Linked DNA regions of Homo sapiens: region 1 is linked to region 2. The links come from fine-mapping of genetic effects on gene expression. A gene starts in region 2. The other region holds a variant in brackets. All regions are shown on one strand. Distances are between the middles of the regions.

Region 1 (2,924 bases), 28 kb before region 2:
AATTTTGTTGTCTTCTTTGAAAGAGTGTTGAATTTTGTCCTGGCAGGCAATTAACTTACCTGTGGATGAGCTTGATGTTTTGGGGGCCTCTTAAAACACTGGTAGGGCACATCTGGAGTATCTTTTATTCTAAGGCTAGTTTAGCTCTACTTTTTAAGACATAGCCTTCTGGGGTCTTTTCTGAATGCTCCAGGTGTTCAATGGGCTCTTTTATGTCTTTGGGGGTTTGTTTGTTTGTTTGTTTGTTTGTTTGTTTTTTATTGCTGGGGAGAGGAGGGGGAACAGAGTCTCGCTGTGTTGCCCAGGCTGGCCTGAGACTCCTAGGTTCAAGTGATCCTCCCACCTCAGCCTCTTGAGTAGCTAGGATTACGGGCACACACCACAGCCCTGGCTTCTTTTATTTTGGATGGTCAAAACGTACAGTATCACAACCGTATGTAAGCTCTGAGAATTGTTCCGTTTACAACTCCCCAGGAGTCTATTTTTGCCTAGTTTATGCATACATGGCAGAGCATTCAACAAAAAACTCAAGAGGATGCCGATGCAGGTTTCTGGAACTTTCTCTTTGCACCACTCCCTGCTCTCCGGTATTCTTCCCCACAAAGTTCAGCCATCTCAGCTCTCCTGAACACTGACATCTGCCTTTTTCAGAGTAATGCTCTACTTGAATTCCCCTTCCCTGTGCCACAGTTTAGAAGGTGTCTCCAGGCAAAGAGCCAGGGCAATTGCTGGTCTCACCTAATTTATTTTCTTTCTATTTAAGATACAGGCCTGTTCTGTTGTTCAGTATCTGAAATTGTTGTCTGTTATATTTTTTCCAGTTGTCTAGTTGTTTATGGAAAGGAAAAAAATTCAGAACCGGATAATTTGTCCATGCTTTATATATTTAGTAGGAGTTTCAAGAATGTCTTTATAATGGGCCAGATTGTCTCAAAAATTACAAGTATATTAAACACTAAATATGTATATGTTTCTTCTTAACCCCAAAATACTAAGCCATGATTTTATTTCTCTTAAACATTTCTATATTTAATTCTGAATTTTACTGGGTTTAAAAGATTCTCACCCATTAAGGAAAACAGTCACCATCCCCATTAACTGAACCACAACACTGATTGTACTGATTGTGTTCTAGGCAGTCCTGAGGGGACTCACTGAGTACT[C/G]TTTGTGATTGCCATGTCCATGATGCCATCGCTTAGAAGAAGTGCCACTTGGCCCACATTCCTGAATGCAAGATAAACACATTAATTCTTCTGTCTACTCACAGCAGTGCTCAACTCCAACTCCAGTTGATCGTTTGATCAGATTCTTCATTTGTTTGGTTCCTAAGATATAGACATGTCTTTCTTTCTGTCTTAAAAGGCCTTTAAATTCCATGGAATCCTGCATTTTTTTCAGTCTCGTGATTTACAGATGATGTATTGCTATTCAGTTGAATTTTAGATCTCTCTCCTGGCATTATCAAACTTGCAGCCATAACATCTGAGGTCACTCTCTCAGCACCAGGGGCCTTGTGAATCTGTGAGCACTGTGCCAGCACAGCCTTACAAAGCTGTGGCTCAGACAGGGCAGATGTGATCCTCAGTAGCAGGGCAATTGTAACTATGCCAACAATGACTCTTTGGGTCTGGGGGAAAGTTTCTGTCTATCCACAGTGGACTCTAGAGGATAGTGTGGGCCAAGTGGATATAGTATTGGTTCATTCAGAAAAATACAAACTTCTCTAGGTATCTCAAGCTAGAAAGTGATTTAAATTAAGGAATTAAGAGACAAAATGTGGGAGCTAAAGGAGCAAAAATTGGGAAAGTTGGTGGTTTCCAAAGATGAGAAACATCAGAAAATCATAGCATCCTACCAGGAGTAATGCCCATCTAATTCCTCATTTCTCTTCCCTGATACAGCATGTGAGCTCCAGAAAGCCTGGGTTTTGCTAGCTATTTCCTCTGCAGGCATCTATGCTCACCTCCAGAGGTACTAGAACTGCTGGCACTATTGCAATAGTCTGTAGTCACCTGCCTCTGCCATAAGCAGGGTAGTTTCTATCTTCTTCCCACATTTAATTTGTTATGAGTGCCTCCCATTGCCAACAAGGAATCCCAACTGAGCACAAAATCTGGCAAATGCAGTTTGCAGGTTTCCAGCCACAGTGGCTTAGGGAAGAGTATAAAAGAGCAAGTATGGGTCTGTAGCTATAGCTACATTAAAGCTATGGCTTTAATGACTCTATTTTTGAAAAGCCTGACACATAGGAAACTCTCAAAAAATAACTGTGGTTTCTGTTATTTTTATTTAATAAGCAGTGGCATGAAAAGTCAACCTATATCTGGGCTAACCATACAGGAACAGACTGTAAAGATGACTGTGCCCTTTACCCAATAGTGCTACCCATCCACACAGTTCTCCTTTTTCCATTTCAGGAATGGATAAAACAATGATTGTATTGATTTCCTGCTCACTGTGGTATTAATTGCTTGTGGTCCCCAAACACAATGTAAGTTAGTAATCTTCGTATCCATCCATTTGTTATAGGATTTTTGGGGTGTCACTTCACCAGCTGGAAATCTCTGTGGCTAGTGGTGCCTTTGCCCGAGTTTTGCTCTGTCCCACTGGGCTCATTCTGCCCATTTGGCCTGTCAGGCTGCGTTTGGCTCATGCTACTGGCCTAGATCCCACGCCTGCCAAGGGCAAGCCAGGCACAGAGCAGCGAGGGGTGTATGAGTGGAGTGTGGGGTCCAGGCATGCTAGCTGCTGCTGCAGGGTGGGCAGCTCCAGGTGCCAACACAGGCACTGGCTCCCTGTGAGGGCACAGCTGGACCAGGCACACCACAAGCAGCACCCACAGCTGGCACTAGGGAACATAGTGGTGCCCACAAGCTTGGAGATGCCAGGAACCACAGGGCTCCAAAGAGGGAGTCACAGCCCTG
Region 2 (2,924 bases):
ATTTTGGAATGGACATTGTTAATGTCAATTGGTGAAACTAGAATACTGATAGTGGATTTTTTTAAAGTACTGTGTCAATGTTAAATTGATTGAAGTTGATAACTTTATGTGGTTATGTAAGAGAATGCCCCTATTCATAGGAAATAAACACTGGCATATTTTAGGATAAAGGACCATAATGTATGCATTTAATCGCAAATGGGTGAGAGAGAGAGACAGAGACAGAGAGAGGGCAATGATAAAGTCAGTTGACAATTAGGGCAAATGAAATATAGATGTTCAATATAATATTTCTAGTCTTATAATTTTTCTGTAAGTTTGAAATTATTTTCAAATAACAACTTAAAATACACATTAATAGCTAAAGGAGTGCTCAGAGTCCTGTGTTCCAGCACTGTGCCACTGCATATCAGAAGCTCCAGAGAACTCTAAGAATAAGGCCATGCCTTGCTGAGGAAGTCTGTCTTGGCATTGGAAAAAACTGAGCTCGTATTATTTGTATAAAGAGCAAAAGAACTAAGTGTTCTGTGGCAGTTGTGAATTTGTGAAGTTGTAAGGGTCTTAACTTGTATATGACCCCATATTTTCTGTTCAGCATATATTTGTCTTATAAAAATCAATTGTTAAACAGAAGAAAAAGTAAATAATAATCAAAGGAAGCCCCAGCACGGTGGCTCACGCCTAAAATCCTAGCACTTTGGGAGGCCAAGGCAGGAGGATCACTTGAAGCAAGGAGTTCGAGACCAGCCTGACCAACATGGTGAAACCCCCTCTCTACTAAAAATACAAAACTTAGCCAGGCGTGGTGGCACATGCCTATGGTCCCAGCTACTCAGGAGGCTGGGGCATGAGGATGGGTTGAACCCAGGAGGTGACGGCTACAGTAAGCTGAGATCGTGCCACTGCACTCCAGCCAGAGTGAGACTCTGTCTCAAAAAATCATCATCATCATCATCAACAAAGGAAGAAGAGAAATTCTCATTGCTAAAGCAGAGAATTCATAAAGAGGGTATCACAGGGACATGAAATTTCCCTTTGGTATAGATTTTTTAAATTGTAAGATATAGAGAGAGCAAAGCTGATAGAAAGCCTTCATTTTTCTACGGCTACAGTATCATCTTAACAAGTTCCTGGAGTGTCAAACGCAGGCTGAATTACTCTTTTAGGACACGCAATAAAAGGGGTAGAGATTACAGGGTAATTTGAAGGAGGCTAATGTTTCTATTCTTTTAAATCTGACAACAGATCATATCATCATTTCATGATACTGTGTACTTAAAGTTTTCTTACTATTTTTTCACTGCTTTGGAAAGCAGCCTTAAGTAACGTCTTCCTGTGCAAACTGGTAGAACCATTCTGACCACCCCGTTAACAACCCCGCTTTGGTTGGCGCGAGCCTGACCGGCGGTGCAGTTATCTTCCTGAAGGCGGCGCTGTGCCCCAGCTGTGCTGAAGGAGGCCGGCGTGAAGGAAGGGGAGGGGCGTTCCCGGGCAGAAACCCAGCTGGGCGCCGCGTTTAAAAGCACAAAGGGAGCATAGTCTAGTGAGAAGCTACACGTTTGCAAGTGGTACACATAAGAAGAGAGATATGAGCGGCTTCTATGCCCTACAAAAGCGTCGAAATTAAAAAAGGCACAATCTTTTGTTCTTAAATCCCCAAGTGATAATAAAGATGTTCGCATAGTCATTATCCCATTACCTTTTATTTCGCATTTCTCTCACCTTCTTTTGTCATTTTTTAAACTTTTTCTCCTTCCCCCTCTTTCACTCCAGAATTTGTTTTATAATTGATGTCGATGTTTTCTGTTGCTTAGAAATTAAATTATCAGAAACTCCTTTGTATACTGGTCTCTGACCTATAAATAGCACCACAGCTGCCTGTGACTTACAGCAATTAAAGATTTTTGTGCTAGCCAGAAAAAGAAAAGAAAAGAAAAACCTGAAGGTCCCAGTGTAGCATGTCTAGTTGTTCTGCTGGCTTTATTGGGAGGAAATATGAGAAATGGCTCTTAGAAAATATTTTCCTTATCAATAATTGTTCTTTGGAGTTCACCTTACTCAACGAGGATGTATCAGAAATAATTATTGGGGTTGAATGTATTTCCTGTCAATTAGTGTGGTCTTTTTCCACAAGAGTACTTTCTTTTCATTTTTCAAGGATCATAGACAACAGCTCTTCCCTATAAAAATATTTTTGAATAAAAAGTACCATTTCCATTATAAGATCTTGGCAATCAACATATCTTCTATTATATCCAAAAGAAGAGAAAGGCTTTAATGGGGCCTGGTTATGATTAATAATAGATTTGGTGAAGAAAAAGCCAGCCAGACTTTAAAATAGATGAGACCATTCTTAGTCTTGGTGAGTCTTGGTTCAGCTCATTAGGGAAGCCAGCTGCGATGCAGATTGGCATACCATTTCTGTGACAGAGGAATTTCCCATAAGAGCTCTCTCCTAAAGGAGGCCAGTGTGTTTTTAGGTGAGCCCTGGCCACATCTGGACGATAGAGATGAACTGTGCCATACAGGAGGTGGAACAAGAGTAGAGGAAAACAATACAAATGACTTTTAACATTTGGAAGCCTACTTTTAGAGGGAATACCAACCAAATGGGACCAATAAAATGATAAAATAAGAGGAGTGATTGAAAAATAATTTCAGCACAATCTTTAATCTATGAAGAGCTAAGAGATGGAAGACAGGGAACGGACATGTCTTCTTTTGTGGGAAAGGCAATAAGGAACAGATAAAGGCTGTAGGAAGAGTGCCAGATTGCACTAGGACAAACTGTGCACCAGGTATCACAAGAAACATTGCCAAGGATGTTGTACACACACCTTTTATTTTTAAGAATGCATAAACTGTCTTTTGTGAATAAACTAAATTTAATCCTGCTTACAAGCAGAAAGATAAACCAGGTAGTC

Alleles and levels. Alleles are on the strand shown, and positions count from the first base shown. SD is a standard deviation of normalised expression in the study named.
As copies of G replace C in region 1, the expression in testis of the gene that starts at base 1,334 in region 2 goes down (small effect, 0.29 SD a copy in GTEx).

What was found. PIP is the estimated chance that this variant, and not a neighbour inherited with it, causes the effect. A credible set is the group of variants that fine-mapping cannot tell apart.
Region 1: its variant is the best candidate, but not a certain one, in a credible set for the expression of XKR4-AS1 in testis (GTEx, PIP 0.69).

The regions. Positions count from the first base shown.
Region 1 is chr8:55,491,402-55,494,325 of GRCh38, forward strand. All of the region lies in intron 2 of XKR4 (XK related 4), which reads left to right. Among named protein-coding and RNA genes, the nearest start is that of XKR4-AS1, 28 kb to the right of the region's middle. The variant C/G (reference allele first, on the strand shown) is at 1,164.
Region 2 is chr8:55,519,645-55,522,568 of GRCh38, forward strand. It overlaps XKR4-AS1 (XKR4 antisense RNA 1), which reads right to left and starts at 1,334. Exons shown (of 2, transcript NR_134323.1): 1 at 1,291-1,334. All of the region lies in intron 2 of XKR4 (XK related 4), which reads left to right. RefSeq lists an enhancer at 1,353-1,442.